Linked DNA regions of Homo sapiens: region 2 is linked to region 1. The links come from fine-mapping of genetic effects on gene expression. A gene starts in region 1. The other region holds a variant in brackets. All regions are shown on one strand. Distances are from middle to middle.

Region 1 (9,238 bases):
GCAGAAGACCACAACAAAGAGTGAGGAGGAAACATGCCTTCTTTGTGTGCACCTGTGAAAACACAGGGTATCAGCTCACAGGCTGAGACTGGGCTGCATTGTCCTGGAAAAGGGGGAAACAGATGGCAATTTAAGAGGAACCTGATAGCATTGTTTGGGGCTGGGCAGGAGGCGTCCTCTGGGAAACTAGGAGAGAAGCTTTCAGCTAAGAGCCACAGCAGCATGAAAAAGGCGCTTACTGTGGCCACTTCCTCCTTTCCCACCTCTGCCCTAGAAGGAGCCCTTGGGAATGCACAGCCCTCCATTGTTTGTCTGGTGCTGTTTCTGCCAAAACTCCCAGGAGAAGCCCGGAGCCCTGACCCAAGGGCCTTTGGGTGTGTGTGTGTGTGTGTGTGTGTGTGTGTGTGTGTGTGTGTGTTGGGAGAAGGGCGGAGCACAAGGATGGCACTGGCTTAGGAGTGTCCATCATAGGGAAGCACACATTAACCAGAAGTGATATGATTTAGCCATGTCCCCACCCAAATCTCATCTTGAATTGTAACTCCTGTAGTCCCCTCGTGTCATGGAAGACACCCAGTGGGAGGTAATTGAATCACAGGGGTGGGTTTTTCCCATGCTGTTCTCTTGATAGTGAATAAGTCTCACGAGATCTGATGGTTTCATAAAGGGCAGTTCCCCTGCACACGCTTTATTGCCTGCCACCATGTAAGACATGCCTTTGCTCCTCCTTTGCCTTCTGCCATGATTGTGAGGCCTCCCCAGCCATGTGGAACTGGGAGTCAATTAAACCTCTTTGTCTTTATAAATTACCTGTCTTAGGTATGTCTTCGTAGCAGTATAAAAATGTACACTAATACAAGAGGCATCTAGAGCATGGGACAGGAATAATGTTAGGGCTCTGAGAATAATCCCTACTCCTTGGATCTTGGTTTTCCTTTTTATGTGTCCTGAGCCTAAATGACTCTTACCTGAATAGCTACATGGTATTGTCCCCTTAGGAGTGGTGAGGGAGCATGGTTTAAAACCCAGAAATCCAGGCTCTGCCAATAACCAATTGTGTGGTGTTGGGAAAGTATCTCAGCCTCCCTGGGATTCTGATCCCTTAAGAGATGCCAAGATTCCTTCATTCATGACAGATCCATTTAGTCCTGTGCTGTAGGTTCAGGGTTAGAGGCTTCAGTCAGGAGTTAAAAAAATAAGCACCATGTGGTCCCTTCTCCACACCTTTTCTCCAAGTAGTGCCCCAGGTTCTAGAATGCCTCGCCCCTGGTTAGCAAGTGAGTATCACACAAAGAACCAGAGTTAAGGTTGTTTGGGAACGAGGAAAACAGAGGCTTGAATGGCTCTGAGGTTCGCTTGGTGACAGCTGCTTCTTTGAGTTTGCCTAATTGAGAAGGGGAAATGAGTCACAAATGTTAGCCTGAAACACTAAATGATGCTGTCTGCCCAGCCAAAGCCATGTTCTGAAGTCCTCATAACACACTCCACTCTCCATTTTGCCCTGGGTGCCACTTAAACATTGCTTGTCTCTTAAACTGGGTACTCCTGGAATCCTATCCTCTTCCTTCTTCTGTCCTTGTTGTGTCTTCTCTTTCTGGGTAGTCACATCCTTTCCCATGGCTGCCTGAAGACCAGCAGTTCCCCAATTCCTATTCTCTGGTTTACTGTTCCCTTCAAAGCTGTAGTGAACAGGCCACTGGACATCTCAACTCTGGCCATCCCACGGGCATCCATGCACAACACAACCACCCTGCCCTCCTCATCCTCACTCCTAACTGCCCTCCTTTCCAGTATTCCTTATCTGGTGACTGACAGCTTCACCCAAACATCTGCAAGTACCACCCTGGAATGCCTCCTGGACTAGCCACCACGGTTTTCTGCCTGCATCCAACCAGCCAACAAACCTGTCCTTTGACTGCATATCTTGCTGTGTCCGTGGCTTCCTCAAAGCATCACTTCCCTTTTCATACTGACTTTTAGGTGGTTCTGGTCAGATTCAAATAAAGTGTTCTGCAAGGCCCTTCCTGATCAGGCCCCTGGCTTCCTTCCACCCTCCTCTTCATTGAACCTCCACTCCAGCCACCTTGAACTGCTTGCAGTTGCACCAGTGTGTGACAGTCCTGGCCCCCTCGTCTAACTCAGTGTCTCCCCATGGGGTCTCCATACATCCTGCAGCACCCTTTATCATGGCACTGACTGCATCATTTAGGGTGCCCCTCCAAAGTGGGGGATGGTGACGATTCTATCTTCTGCTCCTGGTGCAACGCCTGGCTCTTGACATGTGAGATAAACATATTTTATAAATTAAAGATGGAAAGGAACTTTTTCTCAGAGTTTTCCTGGGTTGGGGGTGGGTGGGAATCTCGAGGTTATAATGCATCCCATTGTATTTTGTAGAAAGGACAAATCCCCGAGGATTTTCATGGGTTCCAATGGAGCCTCGGATTTTCTAGGTTTGCTTGAGCGACTCATCACCAGCCTCTCCATTTGCTGTGAGGAGTGGACCAACCATCTGCCATCCAGGAGCTGATGACTGCAGAAACCTGGGCATCATTGCCTGCCAAGTTTAAGAAAAATAAGATAGAGAATTGGAGTGACAGCTGTCCGGGTGCTGAGAGTCAAAGCTGATGATTTCCCTTAGTATTTTTGTCTGTGCCTTCAACAGAAGCACCATGCTAAAACACTGTTGTGCTGCACAGCTGAGAATCTGGCATTTGTTGTGGGTGGAAGGCAGTGACCAAAGGTGGAGGCAGTTTGGGGAAGGTCAGTCAGTATTTCACGTTGTTCCTGGGGAAATAATCACAGAGACAGCCAGTCAGAAATGAGGCTGGTCCCCCTCTTCCCTGGCCTCCTGCCCCTTGGATTTGTTGGCACTTTGGCTGCCAACAGATTAATGAAATCTTTTCAATCCTGAAAGAAATGACAACCTCATCAGGAAAAAAGTGTATTTTCAGCATTAGATGGAAGATAATATCAAGAAACAAAATCTTTTCCTATGTAAGAGCTTTAATACTTACCTTGTGCAAAATGTTGTGAGTTAATATCGTGGTTTCAGGGGAACAATTTTTCTCCTCAAATCTTTAGAGTTATTTCCAGAATTTCAAAGCCTATTTCAAAAACTATAGTTTTGTCTAAAGTACAATCAGCTCTGTGAATGGAAGGGTTGCGGAAGGGAGAGTGTTCACACTGAGAGATGAGATAGTTATCTGCTTCCAATGCCAATGCATAACATGAATGCTGTCGAGTTTTTTTTAAAAAAGCTTGAGATTTGTAATGCCAAAAAAAAAAACCTCTAATGATTTTTTTAAAAGTTGAAACAAGATGAATTTAATTACTGAGCTGCTCACAATAACTAGGAAACAATTCCTCTGTTATAAATTGTATTTATGTATTTTTCCCATGCAAAAAGTACAGGAATTATGAAACACAAATGATTAGAATTGTACGTTAGATTTACATAGTGAATCTGAATAGAAATAACTCCTTTTCTTGGATAATAATATTTTACTTTAAATTAGGTTGTTATACTATTAAAGGAATCCAGATATATAAAGTTGTTATATTTTTCATCACAAAAGTATTTTTTAATGTAAAAAATTGTCACACTGTGTTTCATTATAAGGATTCATAAATTTGCCTCTTTTATTTTAATTTTTTACAGCTCTTTTTGAAGTACATTTTTTTTCTTTGAGACAGGGTCTTGCTCTGTTGTCCAGGCTGGAGTGCAGTGGCATGAATTTAGGTCAGCACAGCCTGGAACTCCTGGGCTCAAGCGATTGTCCTGCTTTGGCCTCCCAAAGTGTTGAAATTACAGTTGTGAGCCACTTCGCCTGGTCCAATTGCCTCTTTTAAAAAGAATTGTGTTTAGAAAAAGTGCTTGTTCATACCTGTTGAGGAGCACAGCTATCAGGAGAGCAAATGATTTTTTAAAAATATTTATTTATTTATTTATTTTTATTATTTTTTATTTTCTGAGACGGAGTCTTGCTCTATCACCCAGGCTGGAGTGCAGTAGTGCGATCTGCAACCTCCACTTGCTGGATTCAAGTGATTCTTGTGCCTCAGCCTCCTGAGTAGCTGGGATTACAGGCATGCTCCACTTTGCCCGGCTAATTTTTGTGTTTTTAGTACAGACGGGGTTTTGCCATGTTGCCTAGGCTGGTCTCGAACTCCTGACCTCAGGTGATCCACCCGCCTCGGCCTCCCAAAGTACTAGGATCAAGGCGTGACGACTATGCGTGGCCACAAATAATTTTTAAATCAATATTTAGAACACATTTAGGGTGAGTGTTTAGAGCTTGACAACTTTCTCATTGAAGATTATTCCGTTTAAGATTCAACAGCTCAAGAGTCTGCAAATCTAGATCCTTAACCAGAACTTGCTTTTATATCTTTTCCTTACAAGAAGAATACCCAGGCTGGGACTTCAAGGCCCCAGAGAGGCAGTGCAGCAAGTTCCTGGGTTCAAATCATCCTTCAGCTACTTCTTAGCTGTGAGACCTTGGGCAAGTTACCTAGCCTTTCTATGCCCCAGTTTCTTCATCTGTAATTTGGGGCTAGTAATCTCTTCTTCATAGGTTTGTTGCAAGATTAAATTAATTTACATTAAGGGCCAGGTGTGGTGACTCATGCCTGTAATCCCAGCACTTTGGGAGGCCAATGCGGGCAGATCACCTGAGGTCAGGAGTTCGAGACCAGTCTGGCCAACATGGCAAAACCCAGTCTCTACTAAAAATACAAAAAAATTAGCTGGGCGTGTTGGCGCACTTATAATCCCAGGTACTGGGGAGGCTGAGGCAGGGGAATCTCTTGAACCTGGGAGGTGGAAGTTGCAGTGAGCCAAGATCACGCCACTGCACTCCAGCCTGGGCGACAGAGCAAGACTCCATCTCCAAAACAAAACAAAACTAATTACTTTAAGAATTAGAACAGTTTATGACTGGTACATAGTAGATCCTCATTAGACACTAAAAATTATAATTACAATTGTTAATTATAATTATTTATTATTATAATTATATGAGCAATTATAGGAAAGCTCTCACTCTTTCTAAAGAATTTGCGTGAATAAAGGAAGACTAATTTTCTCAATGTCTTTTTAGTACACTCAGAATTTTCGGTACAGCAAATAATTTTCAGTGAAGTCAAAATTATTTAGATAAAGTCTTCTCTTCGTGCCCTAGCAGAAAATGTTCAGAAACAAAATGAAATAAAGAGACAAAGGAAAAAAAAAACTGGCAAAGGGTCAGGTTTTGAGAATTGTTTTCAAGAAGTCATTGTATTCAGATTGGTGGAGCAGGCTACTGTAAACCGTAAGTAGGAAATGAGAACCCGTTGTAAGTTGATAAAATGGATGTCTTTTCAACTAAACAGATTGCTATCAGCCTAACAGAGCCAACTCATGTTCCTTTTCGGCCGGTCATTTCCTGTACTAAGTGTCTATAAGAGCCGCCCATTTGGGTGTTTCTCAGGATTATAGGTTTTTAGGTCACGCAGAAACCCTGGGGAACGCCTGAAAAGGCTAAACACAAGCAGTTACATTATGCACAAGCTGGATGACGTGACCCCGCTGCTGCTGTGTGGAGAGGGAGGCTGCTGAACCCGAGCTGGTGTGAGCTTCTCTTGCCGTAAGTCCACGGGTGGCCAGGAGCACGTGTTAGTCTGGTTAAGAGCTCTGCTCAGAAGTAGCCGCTGCAGCTGAAGGTTTTCAGGCGGGCTGAAGGCTGGGCCGCTTCTTCATTCATTTCAGAAACTTGAACAGTGGGCCTTCTACACACGCTGTCTTTGTCAGCCTCAGGCAGTTCCTCCATGGATGAGACACAGGGGCCTCTGGCCATGACTGTCCATCTTCTTGCCAACTCTGGGCACGGCTCCCTTCTGCAGAGGACTCTGGACCAGCTCCTGGATTGCATTTGCCCAGAGGTCCGGCTCTTTCAGGTGTCTGAACGGGCCAGTCCTGTGAAATACTGTGAAAAGTCCCATTCCAAGCGGTCCCGGTTTCCAGGGATGTCCGTGTTGCTCTTCCTGCACGAAAGCCCGGGAGAGGATAGGCTATTTCGCGTCCTGGACTCTCTCCAGCATTCGCCATGGCAGTGCTACCCCACCCAGGACACTCGGGGAAGGCTGTGTCCCTACTTTTTTGCCAATCAGGAGTTCTACAGCCTGGACAGTCAGCTGCCCATCTGGGGGGTGAGGCAGGTGCACTGTGGCTCCGAGATCCTGAGGGTGACGCTGTACTGCAGTTTTGATAACTATGAAGACGCCATCAGACTCTACGAGATGATCCTGCAGAGAGAAGCGACCTTGCAAAAGAGCAATTTTTGTTTCTTCGTGCTCTATGCCTCCAAGAGCTTTGCTCTGCAGCTCTCCCTGAAGCAGCTGCCCCCGGGAATGTCAGTGGACCCCAAAGAGTCTTCGGTGCTGCAGTTTAAGGTTCAAGAGATCGGCCAGTTAGTGCCTCTGCTACCCAATCCATGCATGCCTATCAGCAGCACCAGGTGGCAGACTCAGGACTACGATGGCAACAAGATTCTGCTTCAGGTATTTCTGTTTTGTCTCAGATCTTGTAGAGGCTCATGGAGCTGTGTAATTTTACATCGGAATGGGCCTAAGCTAGTGGTTCTCAGACTTGGTTGCATATTAGCGTCCCTTAGGGTCTTTCATAAATTCCCACCCCAGGGCAGTTTGATCCGAATCTCTGGGAACATCCAGGCCTAGGTAACTTTTTTACAGCTTCTTGGATGACTGTAATCTGTAACAGGGTTGAGAATCACTGATCTCATAAAATCTCATCTGACAGATAAGAAAGTTCAGATTCCATGAATTTGCAGCTGACACAAGTACTTTATAGTAGAATCAGACAGGATTCTACTATAAAGATCAGAATCCTATTAAAGAATCGGCCTCCTTTCTCAGGCTTGCCGTTTAAATGCCCATCAACTATACCCCTATCCTTTGTTTACTCTTTGGGCTCAGGAATGTCACAAGCTCTTCTAATCTGACTTAAGGAAGTTGAAGTCATACTTATGTTTAGATATGGTTTTTTTAATTTTTAATTTTTTTATTTTTTAGAGATGGGAGTCTTCCTCTGTTGCCCAGACTCGAGTGCGGTGGTGCCATCATAGCTCCCTGAGGTCTTCACCTTCTGGGTTCAAGTGATCCTCCTGCCTTAGCCTCCTGATTAGCTGGGACTACAGGCACGTGCCGCCATGTCTGGCTATTTTATTTTATTTCTAGAGACGGGGTCTCACTATGTTGGCCGAGCTTGTTTAGGGATGTTAAGTTTGCAGTACTATTGACTTAATTTTTATTCTTTATTATTATACTTTAAGTTCTGGGGTACATGTGCACAAAGTGCAGGTTTGTTACACAGGTATACATGTGCCATATTGGTTTGTTGCACCCATCAACTCGTATTGACTTAATTTTTAAGCATCTTGCATCACTGTCAAATTTTACCACATACCAAGTTAGATAGAATGCTTTCTTAAAAAAACTTGAAATTAAAGCCTTCCTTTGTAACCATCCTCGAAAACCTAACATAGCATGTGTGTATTTAGTCATGATAGCTGCCGTGCATTGCCTTTCCATGGTATGTGAGCCTGGGCACTTAGTAGCTGTATGACTGTGGGCCTCAGTTTCTTCATTAGCACAATAAAGGCACCCGAGAATTAGCATCTTCCTCTCTCATACTTACTTACAGGAAATGACCTGACACTTATAAAGTACATAATTAAGATAGTGCCAAGAACTCAATTTTAGCTATTATTGTTCATATTATGCCCTATACTAAGGATTCTCTTAAATTGATAATTTTATTTAATACTTATAACAACCTATGAAGTTACTATTTTTCCCATTTTGGAGATAAGAAAACTGAGCTTTCCAGGGGGTCAGTTATTTGCCCAAGATAGGAAGTATCTATCTACCCTCAAAGTTCATGTGGTCAGCCGCTGCAGTCCAGTGTATGTGTGTAAATGTGCAAGCAGGGGGATGAATGTCATGTTCACAGCAAAATATCCTGTGGCTTCTGTCCTTAAGAAATGGTCAGAAGCTCCTTAAGGCCTATTGAATAAAGTAATAAGAGACTACAAGATGAGATGTCTTTCCATTTGGTTAATTTTGTTGTCATCACTTTGACTTGTTAATAAAACATGAATCATATTCCATATTAAATGATTTCTAAATTATTCACCTTCTTGCTCACATAAGGTAGACAGGCACTGTTTCTGTTAGTTGCCTATTATAAAACCCCATAATTTCCAAGGCATCTAAAATTTCTTTCAGTTTTAGCGACTCTCTAGTACTTAAAATCAACCTCATGGTCAAACAAAAATGTAATGTGTGTGTGCAGCAAGGGACATGATTTTAATCATTCCTGTCTTTAAGGCTGACTGACATTTTTGCTATGGAACCACAGTTTAAACAACTTAGTTACTTTGGAAAGTTGAGTCACATTTGGGGAGTGTAGAAGAGTTTTTTGGATAAAGAGAAACTCCATGAATTGTATGAAAAGAGCCCTCTTCCTCTCTGGATTGTCCCAGGAGCCTGGCCACTTCTCAGGTGTGAATGGGGCATCAGCCCCTCACTCTTTTGTTTTTGAGACAGAGTCTCTCTCTGTTGCTCAGGCTGGAGTGCAATGGTGTGATCTCAGCTCACTGCAACCTCTGCCTCCCGGGTTCAAGCAATTCTTGTGCCTCAGCTTTCCCAAGTGGCTGAGACTACAGGTGCCTGCCAACATGCCCAGCTAATTTTTGTATTTTTAGTGGAGATGGGGTTTCACTATGTTGCCCAGGCTGGTCTCAAACATCTGGCCTCAAGTGACCACCTGCCTCAGCCTCCCAAAGTGCTGGGATTATAGGCATGAGCTACCACGCCCAGCTGCCTCTCACTCTTGATAGCCCCCTTGGACATCACCTTTGTCCTGACCTCCAAACCTCAGAGACTTCTGCTTCCTCACTCCAAAACACGCTTTGATCTCCTCTTGTTAAGTCAATGAGTCTAAGCTTTTGCAAACAGAGTGAGAGATCGCCTTCTGGAAAATTCTGCTTCTGGTGTCATATAATAAAAGTGCCTGAGGAAAGTGTGTAAAGGCTCAGCCATAATCCAAAGACAACACATTGTAGCTCCTAGATAGCTTTTGATTCTTTGAATGGAGTGAATTTTTCAGGATAGAAAATTCTTGGGCGTGGTGGCTCAGGCCTGTAATACTAGCACTTTGGGAGGCTGAGGCAGGTGG
Region 2 (9,238 bases), 680 kb after region 1:
GGCTCAAACTCATGGTGTTAAGATGTAATCTGTGCCACTCTTTTTTTTTTTTTTTCCCGAGACGGAGTTTCGCTCTTGTCGCCCAGGCGGGAGTACAATGGTGCGATCGTGGCTCACCGCAACCTCTGCCTCCCATGTTCAAGAGATTCTCCTGCCTCAGCCTCCCGAGTAGCTGGGATTACAGGCATGTGCCACCATGCTCAGCTAAGTTTTTATATTTTTAGTAGAGACAGGGTTTCTCCATGTTGGTCAGGCTAGTCTCGAACTCCTGACCTCAGGTGATCCGACCTCCTCAGCCTCCCATAGTGCTGGGATTACAGGCCTAAGCCACTGTGCCCGGCCTGTGCCATTCCTATATAAAATGCTCCTTGCCACTTAATTTTGTACTGTATTACGCCACTTGATGATTGTGTTACAATTTATCTGTCTGCACTTACTTCTACTTGTCAATCACTCCCAGCAAAAAATCACTCGAGGGCAGCTTCCTTGTCTCATGATCTTTTCTTTTTTTACTCAATGCCCCATATATAGTAGATTCTCATAAGATAGAATTATTGTTTGATTTGAACACACACACACACACATCACACAGTTACAAGTATATACTCTAAGTATTCCTCTAAGCCTTTTTCCAAAAGGACCTCAAGGTCCTTTTGGAAGACTTGTAAGATGCAGGGGTGGTGACATTTGTCATATTCACATTTACTTTGCCTTGTGCAAAAGAAAGCCAGATGTTAGAAAATGCCTGTGGATTTTCATAAACTTACTCAGATGGTGAATCCAGTTGTAGCATCTGTTCCAGATACACTACATTTACTAATAAAAACCTTGTAGCCCCTGGAATTGGATATGAAGTGATTGACCCAGCAAATGCTATTTCCTCCACACCAATTTGCAAAGACTGCCAGAAGGAGTTTGTTTTTTCCTGATAGGGCAAAGAGTATACTTTCTTAGTGTATGCACAGGGCCATGTCAGCTCTCTTACTGTCTGCCATATTGTATCTGCAGCGATTTTGATTATTTTGACATTCCAAAGAATAGCATGCTAGTCCACAGCATTGATGACATTGTGCTGACTGGATTGAGATGAACAGGGAATATCGCATACTTCAGATGCCTTAGGAAGACATATGTGAGCCAGAGGAGGGCAGAGAATTCCAATTCCTTATAACCATTACTGTATAGTTAGGATCCTGTCATAAAAACAGATATCAGTTATTTTAACAGAATTTAATATAAAGAATTGGCTAAACAGAATAAAGGATTAAAAAAAAATTTTGGTTGAGGTGGGCAGATCACCTAAGGTCAGAGGAGTTCGAGACCAGCCTGGCCAACATGGTGAAACCCTGTCTCTACTAAAAATACAAAAATTAGCCGGGTGTGGTGGTGGGCGCCTGTAATCCCAGCTACTGGGGAGGCTGAGGCAGGAGAATTGCTTGAACCCAGGAGGCGGAGGTTGCAGTGAGCCAAGATCATGCCACTGCGCTCAAGCCTGAGCTGGAGACGTTGTCTCAAAAAGAAAAAAAAAATTTTTTTTGCAAAAATGAGGTCTTGCTATGTTGACCAGGCTGGTCTTGAACTCCTAGCCTCAAGCAATCCTCTCATCTCACCTCTCAAATTGCTGGAACTACAGGAATGAGCCACCATGCCTGGCCCAGGATAGAGAACTTAAATAGCTAAAAGGGAATCCTGATGTATCACAGAGGCATTGACAGCATAAAGCAGTTGTCACTTTTAGGACACAAAGGCAAGATGTTGGGATTATTGGAAACTAGAAACTTGGAGCAGGAACCTTCCAGGGGTGGCCTCGGCCTCTGAGGAGTTTCAGGACTAAGACGAGGGCCCTAAAGAATTGCCATTCAGACCTCTGAGAAGAGAAGAAGGAGAGAAAGCACAGTGGGAAGTACGTTGGACAGATGGTGGGGCCAGAAAATGAAAGTTCATTCAAGGCGGTAGGAAGATCAGCTTATACACACTATGTTGCAAAGTTTAGTTGACTTGATTTATTTCAGGAATGGGATAAGGAAGTAAATACACAAGAGGAAAAGACATTCAAGAAAATTGAAGATATATTTCATGCAGATAACTCTCACTTTTCTTATTTTACTTTAAAACCACTGTTGACAGAGATGAAAAACCTACCGAAAACAAACAGCTAGTCCATGGAAATATGTTTGCTGGTTCCTGGAGTTGAGAGGCAGCAACACTTGGGCCCAAGATAACAGCGGGAAGTGCAGAGAAACTTCTGAGCCAGACTGAACTTAGTTCAAATCTTAGCTTTATCACAAGCTGTGATATTACTCAAGTTATTTAACTTCTCTGTACCTCAGTTTTTGTAATTGGGATTATTATTACTACCATCACAAGTTGAGTTCCACAGAACTAAAATCGAAGTGCCAGCATGCCTCCAACACTTACCCCATGCTTCATCTGGGGATTTACTGCACCCAAATTATAATCCCCTGTATTATAATAACCAAGAACAATCTGTCTATTTCTGATCCACAATAATTATTTATAACACCGCCTTTTTTCCCCCAGTAGATGCCTGGAGTTTGAATCTGTTTAGCATGAACTCCTAGAAATCCCTCACTTTCTTGGTGTACACCCGAATTTGGGAGACTCCGGGTTGAATATCAGAAAGACTTAAAAGGCTATCAGACAAACGCTTGATTGAAATTTTCCCCAGGATTAAAACAGGCAGAGTCTCAGTATGAGTGATAATAATAACAGTACAGGGATGTCCCCTTAAAGACAATGGGGAAAGACAAGGAGATTTGAAATAGATGAAAATGTGGAACTCAGAAGATGTAGGTTCATATAAACTTTTTTTTTTTTTTTGAGATGAAGTCTCGCTCTGTCACCCAGCCTAGAGTGCAGTGGCACAATCTTGGCTCACTGCAACCTCCGCCTCCCAGGTTCAAGGAATTCTCCTGCCTCAGCCTCCCGAGTAGCTGGGACTACAGGCGCCTGCCACCACGCCCGGCTAATTTTTTATTTGTAGTAGAGACGGGGTTTCACCATCTTGGCCAGGCTGGTCTCGAACTCCTGACCTTGTGATCCACCCACCTCGGCCTCCCAAAGTGCTGGGATTACAGGCGTGAGCCACCGTGCCCGGCCGGTTCATATAAACTTTAGAAAGGGAGTCAGAGAATAAGAATTTATCAGCTTACTCTAAGCATTTCCCAAAGGACTGGGATTCCAATTCCAAGTGAGCAAAGATTTATCCTTCTAGAGAAGGAAAGGGCCATTCATTTGCTTTCCATAGCTTATTGGAAAATATCTCTGTGTAACTCGTATCCAGCAGTCATCAGGCATCTTCTCATTCTAATTTGCTTTCCTTAGCCGACTTGCATGCTAGAAGGAAGTGCCCTCTGCTGGTGTAAGAGTTCATAGGCCAAGTCCTTCTCGCATTCTAATTTGGTACCTTATAATTGGTTTCCTGTTACTGAACAGTCCTGTGTGAGTTTGGGTGATAATATTACACTGAGGCCTGAATTGGGGCAGGACCAGCATCAAACTAATTAGGGCCAGCATTCCACATCAATAGCATATATGTGGCTATGTTTGGGGGTTCCAAAAGTCCTTGTAATCTCAAATTATCTTTGCTGCTCATCTGCTATAACGTCTGAAATGCTACCATTAAATTTATCCCATTAGACTATAGTTCCAAGAATTACCAAAATGTAAGTTCATTTCAACCTAATAAACTCTTACTGGGTAAACCTTTAGTTTAGGGCATTGCGATGGGTACTCGGAGTTAAAAACCAAAAGCAAAAATTAAGATGGTGATTAAGTAAGTTTATCTATCACCCTCAACAGCTGCAAAACAAATTGTACGATGCAATGAAAAGTTAATATATCCAAAAATGCCCAAAAGAGGGATAAGGACTCTTATGCAATAAAAATTCAAAGAACTGAGTGATTAGTAGGTGCTGGAGTAGCCAGACATATGACTTGCATCAGGACTTCAGAGGTAAATAGCCCATTTGTGGTGGTCGTAAACAATTTAGGTTTCGCTGGTGAATTAGCTATCCAGGCTCCTTGAAAAGAGAAAGATTTAGAATGAATTCGATGACACTGCTCAGGGGCTTACTAAATTAGAGAATAGCTTACATGGGAGACCCCAGGACAAATACCTGGGGGCTGAATTGTGTGACAACCAAAAAGTTTCCAAGGACAAATTTGAAATTTGACTATTTGCACAGGGATGTCAGAGCTTTGTTGGATGATGGTACCCCGTGGGTGCCCTGACATACCTGAAGCTCTGTTTGAATAACGAACACAGTGAACAGTGAAATGGCCCTTTGCATAATCTGGGAAAGTCCTTGGAAATCCTGATGTGAAAGGCAGACTGGAAAAGGTCATTGTTGAGATTTTCCCTCCCCTCCCCTCCCCTCCCCTCCCCTCCCCTCCCCCCTCCCTCTCTCTCCCTCTCTCTCTTTCTCTCTCTCTCCCTTCCTTTCTCTTTCTCTCTTTCTTTCTTTCCTTTTCTGAGGCACAGTGTCACTATGTTGCCCAAGCCAGTCTCAAACTCCTGGGCTCAAATAATTCTCCCGCCT[C/T]GGCCTCCCAAAGTGCTGGGACTGCAGGCATGAGCCACCACGCTCAGCCACTGTTGAGATGTTGTAAGCAAATTGTTATGGAATGCAACCCCAAATTCATATATTGAAACCCTAACCTCCACTGTGATGGTAGTTGGAGGTGGGACCGCTGGCGGGTAGTGAGTTGATCATGAGGATGGAGCCCCCAGGATGGGATTAGTGTTTTTTATAAAAAGAGATTAGTGTGCTCTCCTTCCTCCCAACCCCTTCTCTGTCAAGTGAGGATACAACAAAAAGATAGCCACTTGCCAACCAGAAAGAGGGCTTTCACCAGACACGAAATCTGTCAGCAACTTGATCTCAGACTTGCCAGGCTGCAGAATGATGAGAAATAAATGTTTGTTGTTGAAGCCACCCAGTCTATGGTATTCATTATAGCAGCTCAAACAGACTAAGATGCAAATCAATATAAAACACTCTGTGAAAAAAAAGAAATGCTTTCAATATTTTCCAGTGAAAAAGAACTCATAATAAGGATTTGACATTGTTTGACAGGAAGGAAGGCTTCTGTTTCTAGTTTTTTAGTTAACTTGACAGTGAAGTTCAAGTTTGACAGTTTAAACTTTCTTTGGTTTGAAATCATCATTGCCAGGTGGGGGAAGAGGAAGCAGGACCCACACAGGACTCAGGAGGGCATTTAGGTCATTCTACCCAGGCCATTGCCATTCTCTTCCTACTCCTCTGAAAGAAAGGGAGGCTTTGACGTCAGGCGTGGGTGAGTCATCTTTCCTCCCAGGGCCTCCGGCTGGAATTTGCAGGCTGTCTTTGCAGCAGCTATTCTGTTAGTCATTCACAAAAAAGCATCCTGGAAAAGCTGAAGGGAAATGCTTGGATGGACAAGTGATTAAATTTCTATTTTCATGGCAGAGAACCTGCTGGCTTGCTCACAAAAGCAGCTGCATCCAGTACCAGGCACCCCAAGGGCACCCGGTAAATACTTGTGGATTCATTGACGAAAAGATCTGCTGGGTTCTCTTAAATCTTGGTGTTGAAACTGAATTTTCAGATACGATTATGTGACTGGTAGATAAGGTTTTGTGCCTATTTACTTCTCCATGCTCAAATGTCAAATCAAATTTATTGGGTTTACATAAAGAGGTTAGTAACATTGCTGGCCCTACTATCATGAACATTGTGAAAGGAAAATGAATAAGGCCCTTTCTGAAGCTTTATCTGCAGGGGTACATGTGTGGGATTCAATGGAAGGAAAGTTGAACTGTGAGCTAAGAATGATTGTCTCTTTTGCTCCAGGAAGCCCTCAGCAATCATTTGATCTTTTTTGAGAATCTGTTAGGGAAAAGAATAAAAATATCTCCTTACCTGCCAGAAATGCAGGGAAACAAGAATGAAGCAAAAGGAAGAGTATGAGTCCTACATCCTTCCAGCCTGAGACAGGATGTATCCTTATTGCTTTGCCTGCAGTGAACTGACAGGGAATCTGAGATGCACAGAGGCATGGTGAATTAGCCAGAGAAGTCTAGCAACTGCAGCCTGAGCCCTCTTCCCTTTTCCGTCTCTTAGGCGATCTCCACAGCTTTATACACGATCTACGTCCATGACTCTTAATTAGATTTCTATCTCTAGTCCTTCTCCTTCTTCACATATATAACTTTGTGCTTTACACTTTTATGTGAAGTTCTGGTAGGTATTTCAAACTTCACATTCGAACTCAAACTCATGACTTTCACCTCAAGCATGCTCCTCCCTTGTCTCCCTTAGGAGGGACTACCGTTTACAGTTATCTAAGCCAAAAAGTCTAGGCGTCATCCTTGAATCCTCTGTTCTTTTCATCCCCCATGAGATACAATTTGGTATTAAGACAAATTCTTTCTCTGTTTCTTTCTCTCTATTTCCACTGTGAATACCCTAGAATAAACCATGCTCCTTTCTCACTGGGTGGACAGCAGTCACTCTAGTCTCTCTTATTTTACTCTTGACTTCTATTGATATAGGAGTTAAGAAGAAATTACTTAGGCAGATAGTGAGGGTACTGGAGTCCTCGATAAGATTTTCCTTTTTAATGAAAAGCAGCCCCAAATCATTTTCTAACAAACAACAGCTTGTAAAATCAAGCTGCAGACATAGACAAGCAAGCTGGAAGATTGCAGGGATGAATCCCAGTAGAAAAGCACTATCTGGGACTAGGCATGTTCAAAATGGCAGCTTCATCTTCCCTTCCCTTTGCCAGCCACGTGTACAGTAAGGAGCAGACAAGATGGCACCAGCCAAGTTGAAAGCCCATTTGCATAATAAGATAGGCAGGATGGGGGTGGTGACCAGCCTTCTCCGCATGCCATGTAAACATCACACCTGATCGAACCAATCTGTGAGCCCTATGTAAATCAGACACTGCCTTCTCAAGCCTGCCTATAAAATCCAGTGAACTCTGCTGCCGACCAGTCTTTTCTCTCCGCAGCACTTCTCTCTCACTGGAGAGAGAACTGTTCTCCTTTCTCTTTCTTCTGCCTATTAAGCCTCTGCTCCTAAACTCCTCATGTGTGTCTGTGTCCTAAATTTTCCTGGCATGGCAGGACAAACCCCGGGTATTTACCACAGACAACAAAACCGCTTCACTATGATGTATGCATGCTGCAAAGGAAGGTTCGTATAAAATTCTTCTTAAAAAATTATTCAGGCAGCCGGGCGCGGTGGCTCACGCCTGTAATCCCAGCACTTTGGGAGGCCGAGGCGGGCGGATCACGAGGTCAGGAGATCCAGACCATCCTGGCTAACATGGTGAAACCCCGTCTCTACTAAAAATACAAAAAAATTAGCCGGGCGTGGTGGTGGGCGCCTGTAGTCCCAGCAAGCTACTCGGGAGGGTGAGGCAGGAGAATGGCGGGAACCCGGGAGGCGTAGCTTGCAGTGAGCCGAGATGGCGCCACTGCACTCCAGGCTGGGTGACAGAGCGAGACTCCATCTAAAAAAAAAAAAAAAAAAATTATTCAGGCAATTTATTAAATATTACCTATAAAATATTATGTATCTGTATTTTACATAAGAAAACAATGATTTATTGGTCTTCATAACAACTGGTCCATGCAACAATACTAAGTAGTCAACACTAAGCTCAACTCTATTTTCAGACCAACGATGCAACTTTAGATTAGAGGACATGTGGGATCTTGCATCCTAATTCCTAAATTTACAGTCAAAATGTTTTCAGAGATAAGTATTATGAAATCCATGAGAAGCTAAAATAATTTATTTATTTATTTATTTACTTTGAGATGGAGTCTTGCTCTTGTCACCCAGGCTGGCATGCAATGGCGTGATCTCAGCTCACTGCAACCTCCGCCTCCAGGGTTAAGCAATTCTCCTGCCTCAGCCTCCAAGTAGCTGTGATTAAGGCGTGTGCCACCACACTGAGCTAATTTTTGTATTTTTAGTAAAGCCGAGGTTTCACCATGTTGACCAGGCTGGTCTCAAACTCCTGACCTCAGGTAATCCACCCACCTCGGCCTCGCAAAGTGTTGGGATTACAGGCGTGAGCCACCGCACCTAGCTCTACCTCTTCTGAAGTTGTTTCTTTTCTGTCTCTTAGATCTCAGCCCTAAGGTCCCTTCCCTGAGAAGGCATTTCTGGGTACCCTTTCTAAAGCAGCGGTCTCTGTGGCTCCCTCAGTCCTTGTGCATCATATCATTGTTTAATTCGTTTGTAAAATTAACCACATACTGAAACTATCCATCTTATTTATTTACTTGTTTATTATATCTCCACTATCTCTTGCTTCTTTCCAAGTAAGTTGTGACCTCCATGTGAATGAGGGCTTTGTCCTTCTTAAAAGAGGCAATTATGGAGCAGTGATTAAGCTCTCACACTCTGGAAGCAGATTTCTTGGATTCATAGCCCAATTTTGCCACTTGCTAGGTATTTGACCTAAAATAATTGTTTGACCTCTCTGTTCCTCTCTCTTCTCATTAGTAAAATGACAGCAGTAAAAAGACCTGCCTCATGAAATTGTTGTAAAAAGCTCACTCCCTGCAAGTTATCCCTGGCGCAAGGCACATACTCAGCAAATGTTGGCTGCCACTGTTGATGACTGTACAGTACCTGCTTAACACGTATTAATAGCGTGAACAGGCCGGGCGTGGTGGCTTATGCCTGTAATCCCAGCACTTCGGGAGGCTGAGGTGGGTGGATCAACTGATGTTAGGATTTCGAGCCCAGCTTGGCCAACGTGGTGAAACCCTGTCTCTACTAAAAATGCAAAAATTAGCTGGGCGGGGTGGCGGGTGCCTGTAATCCCAGCTACTCGGGAGGCTGAGGCGGGAGAATCGCTTGAACCCGGGAGGTGGAGGTTGCAGTGAGCCGAGGTTGCACCATTGCACTCCAGCCTGGGTGACAGAGCGAGACTCTGTCTCAAAAAATAAAAATAAATAAATAAATAAATAGAGTGAACAATAAATTAGTTTTATTATTCAAGGAACACTTCTGCTCTGTCATGGAACATTTTTGGGAATATGCATAGGGGCTGAGAGAACAGGCGAGCTGTCCTCGGAAACCTCTTTGGATGATGGCTGGGCAGAACTGCAGCTCTGCAGAGAGAGATGCGAGCCAGTGTGTGGAAATGGAAAATGATCATAATAGAAGCCAGAGTTTGTATTTTGTACCGATTCTGTGCTAAGTGCTGTGAC

Evidence for each region.
Region 2: its variant is fine-mapped to the expression of FAM124B in left ventricle (GTEx, PIP 0.96).

Annotation. Positions count from the first base shown.
Region 1 is chr2:224,398,339-224,407,576 of GRCh38, reverse strand. FAM124B (family with sequence similarity 124 member B) reads left to right here and starts at 5,470. Exons shown (of 2, transcript NM_001122779.2): 1 at 5,470-6,540. The coding sequence starts at 5,809.
Region 2 is chr2:223,721,822-223,731,059 of GRCh38, reverse strand. No RefSeq gene overlaps it. Among named protein-coding and RNA genes, the nearest start is that of AP1S3, 110 kb to the left of the region's middle. RefSeq lists enhancers at 4,203-4,870, 4,566-5,765. The variant C/T (reference allele first, on the strand shown) is at 4,563.